Linked DNA regions of Homo sapiens: regions 2 and 3 are each reported to be linked to region 1. The links are microRNA targets in miRTarBase. Many come from high-throughput screens and were not tested one by one. Region 1 holds a microRNA gene; each other region holds the end of a gene's coding sequence.

Region 1 (3,359 bases):
AGGTGGAGGTTGCAGTAAGTCGACATGGCACCACTGCACTCCAGCCTGGGTGATAAAGCTAGACCTTGTCTCAAAACAAAACAAACAAACAAACAAGAAAAACACAGAAAGAAACAAGTAAATAAATACCCAAAGTGATACAAGAGTATTCTCCGTGTGTAGAACAGGGTTTGGTGTACATATGACTACATTATATACATGATAAGACTATATGATTAAATATACATCATATATTGTTGAGACCCTGTCTATGAAAAAAAAAAAAAAGAATATACTGTTTGCTCACATTAAAAATAACTCCTCACCGGGTGCGGTGGCTCATGCCTGTAATCCCAGCAGTTTGGGAGGCCGAGGCAGGTGGATTAGTTGAGGTCAGGAGTTTGAGACCAGCCGGACCAACATGGCAAAACCCCGATTCTACCAAAAGGACAAAAATTAGCCGGGGTGGCGGCATGCACCTGAAATCCCAGCTACTCAGGAGGCTGAGGCAGGAGAATCGCTTGAACCCGGAAGGCGTAGGTTGCAGTGAGCCGAGATCATGCCACTGCACTCCAGCCTGGGCGACAAGAATGAGACTCCATCTCAAACAAACAAACAAACAAACAAACAAAATTCCTACACACAAGTGCTTGCTTTGGCAGCACAAAAAAATACAAATAATAATTAAAAAAAAAAAAAAAAACACCCTGCAGTCCGAGCAGGGTGGCTCATGCCTGTAATCCCACCACTTTGGAAAGCAGAGGCGGGCAGATCACCTGAGGTCAGGAGTTCAAGACTAACCTGGCCAATGTGGTGAAACTCCATCTCTGCTAAAAATACAAAAATTAGCCAGGCGTGGTGGCACGTGCCTATAATACCAGCTACTTGGGAGGCCGAGGTTGCAGTGAGCAGAGAATGTGTCACTGCCTGCCCGCCTGGCCCACATAGTGAGACTCTGTCTCAAGAACAAAAACAACAAAAAAAGTAGGGGGGACCAACTAGCCTAAGAGGTCTAGGTTGGAAGCGCCACCGCACTCCTGCCCGGGCAACAGAAACCCTGTGTTGCAAAAAAACTAAACAAAAACAGAACCCCAACATCATGCAAGTCTGATGATAAGCACGCTCTGCAAATGCGTTACCAAGATCAGCATCAACTTCAACGTGGTTTTTCTCAAACAGTAACACTCTAAAAGGAGGCACTTTGTTTTCTTTCAAACAGAAAGTGCTCCCTTTTGGAGAATGACTGCATGAGATCTTCTCGCTCCAAAACTCTGGGTTTTTGTTGGAATTTTCCTTACCAGGTTAAAATGGACACAAAAATAAAGATGCATTCATTGTCCCTGTTTGCATGTTTTCTGGAATCCAGAACATAAACCCCTAAAAGGACCATCTCCAGTTCCTTGCTTCAAAGGCTCAGCAGGTTAGCCTTGTTCACGAAGGGGCAACCCTCCTGAGTATTGTCTCCAAAGAGAAAAAGCAAAGCCTACCACACATACCTTATATTTAACCAAGAGAATTGGGCTGGATTTCTAGAGAACAGCAATGGATTTTGAGCCATGTGTTCACTTGAGTTCCAGCACAGGGACACACAGTCCCGATGGGAGCAACCAAAATGGAATCTAAGATGATATTTAAGAATATACGTTGTGGGCCAGGCACAGTGGCTCATGCCTGTAATCCCAGCACTTTGCGAGGCCGAGGCAGGTGGATCACCTAAGGTCAGGAGTTCAAGACTAATCTGGCCATCATGATGAAACTCCGTCTCTGCTAAAAATACAAAAATTAGCCAGGCGTGGTGGCATGTGCCTGTAATACCAGCTACTCGGGAGGCAGAGGTTGCAGTGAGCAGAGAACATACCACTGCACTCCAGCCTGGGCCACAGAGAGAGACTGTCTCAAGAGAAAAAAAAGGGGGAGGGGGTGGGGGCAGGGACCAACTGAGCCCAAGAGGTCTAGGTTGGAAGTGTCACCGCACTCCAGCCTGGGCAAGAGACCCTGTGTTGCAAAAAAACTAAACAAAAACAGAACCCCAACATCATGCAAGTCTGATGATAAGCACGCTCTGCAAATGTGTTACCAAGATCAGCATCAACTTCAACGTGGTTTTTCTCAAACAGTAACGCTCCAAAAGAAGGCACTCTGCTTTCAGACAACAGAAAGTGCTTTCTTTTGGAGAATGACTGCATGAGATCTTCTCACTCCAAAACTCTGGGTTTTTTGTTGGAATTTACCTTACCAGATTAAAATGAACACAAAAATAAAGATGCATTCATTGGCCAGGCGCGGTGGCTCACGCCTGGAATCCCAACACTTTGGGAGGCTGGTCAAGAGACCACGACCATCCTGGCCAACATGGTGAAACTCCGTCTCTACTAAAAATACAACCATTTGCCGCCTGTGGTGGCATGTACCTGTAGTCCCAGCTACTCGGGAGGCTGAGGCAGGGGAATTACTTGAACCAGGAGGCAGAAGTTGCAGTGAGCCGAGATCGTGCCACTGCACTCCAGACTGGCAAGAGTAAGACTCCATCTCAAAAAAAAATAAAAATAAAAATAAAAAAGGTGCATTCATTGCCCCTGTTTGCATGTTTTATGGAATCCAGAACATAAACCCCTGAAAGGACCATCTCCAGTTCCTTGCTTCAAAGGCTTAGCAGGTTAGCCTTGTTCATCAAGGGGCAATCCTCCTGAGTTTTGTCCCCAAAGAGAAAAAGCAATGCCTACCACACATACCTTATCTTTAACCAAGAGAATTGGGCTGGATTTCTAAGGATGTTGAGCCAGTGTTCACTTGAGTTCCAGCACAGAAACACACAGTCCTGATGGGAACATCCAAAATGGAATCTAAGATAATGTTTAAGAATATACATTGTTGTACACACAAATACCCTCCAGGACAGACCACAGGCTAGGCCGTAAAAGCTCCTCAGTAAGATTTGACAGAGCTGGGGGGAAAAAAAGAATGTACATTGTCACACACACGAACATTCTTCAGGATAGACCACAGGCTAGGCTGTAAAACCTCAATAATTTTTTTTCTTGGAGACTAAGTTAGGAAAAACAAATGCCCACACCTAAACAACCAATCATTTCTAGTTCAAGTACATCTCAAGTATACTGTTGACCTGAAATAGAAAGTTAACCGGGTTTCCCTGCTCTGGGAAGCCCCCTTTGGTAATTCAGTTAAGGGTCTCCTTTGGAAGGTAATGGGTAGGAACATGGAGATGTCAGCCAAGGGAAGTGACTCTCAGGGATTTCTATGGATTATGCAGATGCCCTGCCAGATCCCAAACTTCCCCAAAAGATCCTAAGTCCAGGCAGGAAGGACCACTGGGGTCCAGAAACCAAATGAAGTGGCCCTGGGCAGGAGTCTCTGTTGTC
Region 2 (3,000 bases), not on the chromosome of region 1:
GAAATCACCCACAGCAGTCATGTCTTTGATGTTGTCTAACTGTTCTCCCTGTTCTGAATTCAGTCAGGACATAAAGGTTTTTAAAGTCTTATTTCCTTATAAAGTGGTTTCCTGGGCCAACCATGCCCGAGTCATAGTGAACCTAACAAGACACCCTTTTCAGTTTAGAGTTCCTGAGAAGGTAATAATAGGTTATATTTGCCTTCTTCAACGTGTCTGACTACTCCCTTGTCTTCCCACTCCCCTCTGCCCTGCTTCACTTCTGCACAGGCTCCCACTGCCCTGGCTCCTGTACACCGTCATTCACAGATTCCAGCCAGTGGCTGTCAGCAGCAATGGCCTTTTCTGTGCCATCGTCCTTCTCTTCATCATGCTGCTCTTCGTCATCCTCTCTATCGCCCTCTGCAAGTGGCGAATGAACAAAATCCTGGGCTTCATCATGTTTGGCCTCTACTTTGTGTTCCTGGTGGTGAGCGTTCTCCTAGAAGACAGAATTCTTACATGCCCCGTCTCCATCTAGCAGGAAAAGCCATATCTTGCACCAGCAGCATGAATGGTCCCTCCACACTCTGGGCTCTGGGCTCCTTGACCTCTTGAGAAGAGGCAGCTGGCACACAGCCCTGGGTGCCAAGTGTCCCTCCTTGGTGAATTTGAGGAGAGATGGATTCACACTGGGCCCATTCACTTCACAGGCTGCTTCCACCCTGCCTACTGAAATGACTTCATGTAAAAGACAAAGAGAACCGTCAATACAGGGCTTCTCCCTATTCACCACTGACAAGTACACCTCGCTGGTCGGAGGTACAGTCGATGCAAACAAGGACACAGGCTATATATATCTATAAATACACATATTATAAATATACGCACATGAACACACAAATCCTGCCTGTTCCTGTACTATACCTCTCCTTGCATACCTATAGATTAGTACATACCTGTAAATAAAGACAAAGAAAAATTATATATATATATATAAAATCAGATATATATAAAAGTACAAATGCATCTTTTCAGGGATAGCTCTAGTATATTTATAGTACTTATTTGAAGAGGGGCATCAACTTGCAGTCTGGGCTTTACCTCTTAAGTACAAGAGGTGAACTAATGGAACCAACAAGACAAAGGTAGCATTGCTGTGACCTTCAGCCTACCTTGGACTTGCTGTGATCCTGCCTAGTAAGGTAGATGGTTTAGGGAAATAGCTTGCAGGGAGGAGGGCTTAGTGGAGAAGGTCTGTAGGGGCCCTGAGTTGAGCCTTCCAAAACATTCCTACAAGCCAAACAGAGAGACTATCTGCCCACCTCCACCAGAGTACCCTGACCAAGAAACTCAGGGTACTTAGGACAGAAAGAGGTAAAAACCCAGGCTGGGTGGCTTGGTTTGGGGAAGTGGGGAGGTAACCAGGGTTGGGTTGTTTTGTTTTGTTCTTATATTGTCCCAGCATGCAAGTAGAAAATATGACTACAAACCAAATTAGTGCTTTTTCTAGGACAGCAAGACTATATAAACTGAACCTGTATTTTTCCAGCGCATGTCCCATTATCATCAAAAGAAGAGGGGTAAGTTTAGCTGTGATTGTCATGTAGATATATTTTGATGCTAAGGGCTGCCAAGAGAGCCTAGATGTGCAATAAGAAGTCATCCAGTAAAGGTGCTTAGTGGGCCTTGCCACCTAATGGGATGTAAGGGCATAGTTCTTTAAAACGTTTTCCAGTGTAGTCATAAAGGGCTTTAGTGTCTGAAGAAATCATTATTCCCAATAGCACTAACTTAACTCTGATCAGCACTGCTTGGGTTGAGGCAACTTAGCGATGCTTGGAAAGGCATTTGCACACTCAGTGCACCCCAGGAAGGTTTCTGAGTGCCAGGTCGAGTGGTACCAGGACCAGGCTTTGGTTAAAGTTCTTGTAACATCTATGTCTCTTCTTCCATCAAGACCTTATCTGGGATTCTGTCTAAGTTTTAGAGTACACGGTATTTGACAGCTTCCTTATACTGGTTTCAAGCTATTCACTCCAACAATTTGATTTCTTGATTTTGCTCAACATTACATTGAATGCATGAAATTAAAATATTCCACGCCCCCAAGTTCTGTATGACACCTTGTGTGTTTTCTCAGATCTATGTCAGTCGAAAATAAAGCCAGCAAGGGGGAAAAAATAGGCAAACTGAATCAATGGAAAACTATGTAGAGCACTTTTCTTTTCTCCAAGTCATGCTTTCCTTAAAATCAGTTGAAAAATTGAATCAAGGATGGTTCATTATTCTGTACCCATCCTACGTCTAAGTTGGTACATATGGCATATGGGAAATTTCACCATATGTGTTCCTATCTCCAATCTATTCTGTCATTGACGCCTGCTATGATTTTGTTGTGAGCACATACCTCTTAACATAAGAGGACAGGATGCAGAACTCACAGCAGAATAAGAGGAAAGGTAACCTGACAGCCCCAGATCAAGCTCAGTATTCCTTCCAGAAAACCTCAGCTCACCCCACAGAGCATGGCAATAACAGGAAATGCCCATCATTCCTCTTCACCCAGAAGTAAAAAGCACTTCAAACCCGAGGCCCCCTGGGAAAACAAGAAATCAAGATGGCTGCCAGTCGGAGGCTGGCTTTCAAGTCTCTCCAACTCGGCAGATTGGGGTCTTCAGATGTGGGACAATGCCTTCCAAGACATTGAAACACCATCCAATAGAGGCGCTGAGTGGAACCTGCCACCTAATGGGAATGAATCTCATTCATCAAGGTCAGGACTTTGTACTGGGGCAAGAATTTGTCCTGCTTCCTTAGAGAGTGAAAGAATGAGGAAGTGAACTTTACGTTTAAAAACTCCAGTTGTTTTCCCTGTGTATTTCTTGAAGGGCAACCAAGTTGGTTATTGTGTGAATTTTATATTATTGACTGGTGCGTTGTTTGAAATAAGGTTTAAATAGGTGACTGACTCAACTGCAAACAGACCATGTAAAACAGAAGTTGAAGGAGACCTGATGC
Region 3 (3,359 bases), not on the chromosome of region 1:
CACATAAGAAAATTCATACTGGAGAGAAACCCTATAAATGTGAAGAATGTGGCAAAGCTTTTAACCAATCCTCAAACCTTACTACACATAAGAAAATTCATACTTCAGAGAAACCCTACAAATGTGAAGAATGTGGCAAATCCTTTAACCAGTTCTCATCTCTTAATATACATAAGATAATTCATACTGGAGAGAAACCCTACAAATGTGGAGATTATGGCAGAGCTTTCAACCTATCCTCAAATCTTACTACACATAAGAAAATTCATACTGGAGAGAAACCCTACAAATGTGAGTATGGCAAAACTTAATTGATCCTACAAGCTTACTACACATAGGAAAATTCATACTGGAGAGAAACTACAAATGTGAAGAATGTGTTAAAGCCTTTAACAAGTCTTCAACTTTTTCTGCACACACGAGGTATTTTATACTGGTGAGAAACCTTACAATGTAAAGAATGTGGCACAGCTTTTAACTAATCTTCAAACCTTACTGAAAGTTGAGAAAATTCGTACTGGAGAGAATCCTACAAATGTGAAAAATGTGGCAAATCCTTTAACTGATCCTCAACTTTTACTAAACATAAGGTAATTCATACTGGAGAAAAGCCATACAAATGAGAAGAATGTGGCAATGCCTTTAATCAGTCCTCACACCTTTCTACACATAAGATAATTTATACTGGAGAGGAACTCTATAGTTGTGAAGAATGTGGCAAAGCTTTTAACCAATCCTCATACCTTACTATACAGAAATTCATACTGGAGAGAAAGCCTACAATTGTGAAGAATGTGGCAAAGCTTTTAACCTTCCTTAACCCTTAACTGTAGATAAGAAAATTCATACTGGAAAGAAACCCTACAAATGTGAAGTCTGTGGCAAAGCTTTTAACTGATTCTCAACTCTTACTACATGTAAGAGTATTTATACTGGAAAGAAACCCTACAAATGTAAAAAACGTGGCAATGCCTTTAACTGGTCCTCACACCTTGCTACATATAAGACAGTTTATACTTTGAGAGAAACCCTGCAAATGTGAATAATGTGGCAATACTTTAAACCAATCCTCAAACCTCACTAAACATAAGATAATACTGAAAACTTTACAAACCTGAATGATGTGACAATAATTTTGACAACACCTCGAACTTTCTAACATAAATCATACTGGTGAAAAATCCTAGAAATGTGAAAAATATCACAAAGCCTTTAAATGGTTGTCACACTTGATTGTAGGTAAGAATCCATACTGAAGAAAACTCCTGGAAGTGTAAAAAATGTGGCAACACTTTTAATAAATGCTCACCCCTTATTGCACAGGAAAGCATTTATACTTCAGAAAGATTGTACAAATACAAGGAATGTGGAAAAGCCATTATTATCTGCTCAGATTTTACTCAACATTAGAGAGTTAGTACGTAATAAAAGCATTATAAATGCAATTTTTGTCAAGAGATCTTTCAGAAAATATAAGCCTTTAAAGTGAAGAAGAGGAGCCAGTTGTGCTGGCTCACATCTGTAATGCCAGCACTTTGGGAGGCCAAGGTGGGTGGATCACCTGAGGGCAGGAGTCTGAGACCAGCCTGGCCAACATAGCAAAACCCCATCTCTATTAAAAATTTTACAAAAATTAGCTGCGTGTGGTGGCAGGCCCCTGTAATCCCAGCTAATTGGGAGGCTGAAGCAGGAGAATTGCTCAAACCTGGGAGGCGAAGATTGCAGTGAGCTGAAATCACACCACTACACTCCAGCCAAAGCAACAAGAGCAAAAACTTCGTCTCAAAAACAAAACAAAAAAAGAGTATTCATTGTGAGGACAAACAATACAAATACGAAGAGGGTTGTAGTACCTTTACTTGTATCACAGATACTTTTGTACCCATTTTGCACTAGAGGAAAACCATGAAGCAGTTGCTCAAATGTTGTTCAACACCAGAAAATTTATATTGGAGAAAAGCACTGTAAATGTAATGCATTTGTGAAAACATTTTTTAAAAAACTACAGCTTAGAAAATACCAGAGGCCTCATACTAAAATATATTTTTGCAAGTGAAGTAAATATAAAAATAATTTAATCCAAAATTAAGTCTATATAAATATCAGAGAATTCACAGTAGAAATATCTAAGGTACTGACACTTCAGACATTGCTGAGTATAGAATCAGAATGCTGAGTATAGAAAATAATTTAAAACTAAAGTTGGTAGGTAAATAATGTGTATATAACTTTAAAAGAAGTAGAATTTTTTTGTAGATGTATAATTACATTCAAATTATATTTTTTCTTGAAAAATTAGTTTTTGAAAAGCAAATGATGTAATTCAACTCAAATTCATGCTCTTCATTCCTATTGTATTCACATGTGAAAGCATGTGATTAATTTTTCATGCATCAAAGATATGAGAAATCATTTCTGTTAGGTCGGTATTATTTATGACACTTTCTATGAAAGAATAAGGACATTAAAATGTAAGATGCATGATGAAAACCTGAGTGAAGAGGCTGTTTGTGTTTAACTTATAATATTGAGTGATCCATGAAGTAGGTTTTCAGAGCAATATTCTTCTGCATTATAGTAAGAGAAAACCATTTTTAATCTTAGTTAAAATTAAAGTGAATTAGTAGTATATCATTTTACTATTTGTACTTTTATGTAATAAAATGCAATGTGTTTAAAAATTTTTGGATTATGCGTGAACTTAGTTTTTTAATTAAACTTTTTTTAACATGTTAAAACTATTGTGCATTCAATGAAGTGTTTTCATGCCACTGACTTTACCTATCCCACATTACTCAAGGGTTTAGGTAAAAGAGGGTAACAGTATACTACTTGATAACATAATGGGCTAACATCTCTAATAATTATTTTTGCTAGTGACTTTAAACTGCTAATAAAGAATATTGTTCCCATAGGTTAGATTTTTATTCTTTTTAAAATTTAAACTTATTTCTCTTAATTTTTGTGGATACATAGTATGTGTATATCTTTATGCCATGTATGGCATATTTTGATACAGGCATATAATTTTATGTATTAATCACATCAGGGCAAAAGATGTATCCATCAACTCCAGCATTTCTCCTTTGTATTACAAACCAATTCTGCACTTTTAGATACTTTAGAATGTACAGTCGTTACTACAGGGTCATTTTATGGTTATAATAAAAATTATATACAAGTATAAATAAACCATGAGAAAATTCTGAGTTCTGAATAAACATTTAAAAAATGTTATATATTTTTCTTTGAACATGTGACCTCTCTGCCTGCAAACATACAGCATTTTAGTTTTGATTTACATACACTTAACTATACACATATATTACTCTAAAAATGAACCTTAGGTATGAGAAAAT

The links. Region 1 holds the annotated microRNA hsa-miR-515-5p (UUCUCCAAAAGAAAGCACUUUCUG, at 2,133-2,156, opposite strand). A microRNA usually pairs through its seed, bases 2 to 8, with sites in the 3' UTR of a target mRNA and lowers its output. Matches are read on the target gene's strand: a 7mer-m8 pairs with bases 2 to 8, a 7mer-A1 pairs with bases 2 to 7 and ends in A, and an 8mer does both.
Region 2: miRTarBase lists SLC24A2 as a target of hsa-miR-515-5p. Seed matches in the 3' UTR shown: 7mer-A1 at 1,227-1,233.
Region 3: miRTarBase lists ZNF107 as a target of hsa-miR-515-5p. Seed matches in the 3' UTR shown: 7mer-A1 at 602-608 and 8mer at 1,950-1,957.

Annotation. Positions count from the first base shown.
Region 1 is chr19:53,677,813-53,681,171 of GRCh38, reverse strand. MIR515-1 (microRNA 515-1) reads right to left here and starts at 2,169; the gene lies at 2,087-2,169. MIR519E (microRNA 519e) reads right to left here and starts at 1,232; the gene lies at 1,149-1,232. All of the region lies in intron 2 of LOC107985342 (a long non-coding RNA gene), which reads right to left. RefSeq lists an enhancer at 2,977-3,359.
Region 2 is chr9:19,513,673-19,516,672 of GRCh38, reverse strand. SLC24A2 (solute carrier family 24 member 2) reads left to right here. Exons shown (of 11, transcript NM_020344.4): 11 at 271-3,000. The coding sequence ends at 520. All of the region lies in intron 4 of LOC105375988 (a long non-coding RNA gene), which reads right to left. Among named protein-coding and RNA genes, the nearest start is that of MAP1LC3BP1, 52 kb to the right of the region's middle.
Region 3 is chr7:64,708,346-64,711,704 of GRCh38, forward strand. It overlaps ZNF107 (zinc finger protein 107), which reads left to right. Exons shown (of 4, transcript NM_001282359.2): 4 at 1-3,232. The coding sequence ends at 311. Among named protein-coding and RNA genes, the nearest start is that of MIR6839, 31 kb to the left of the region's middle.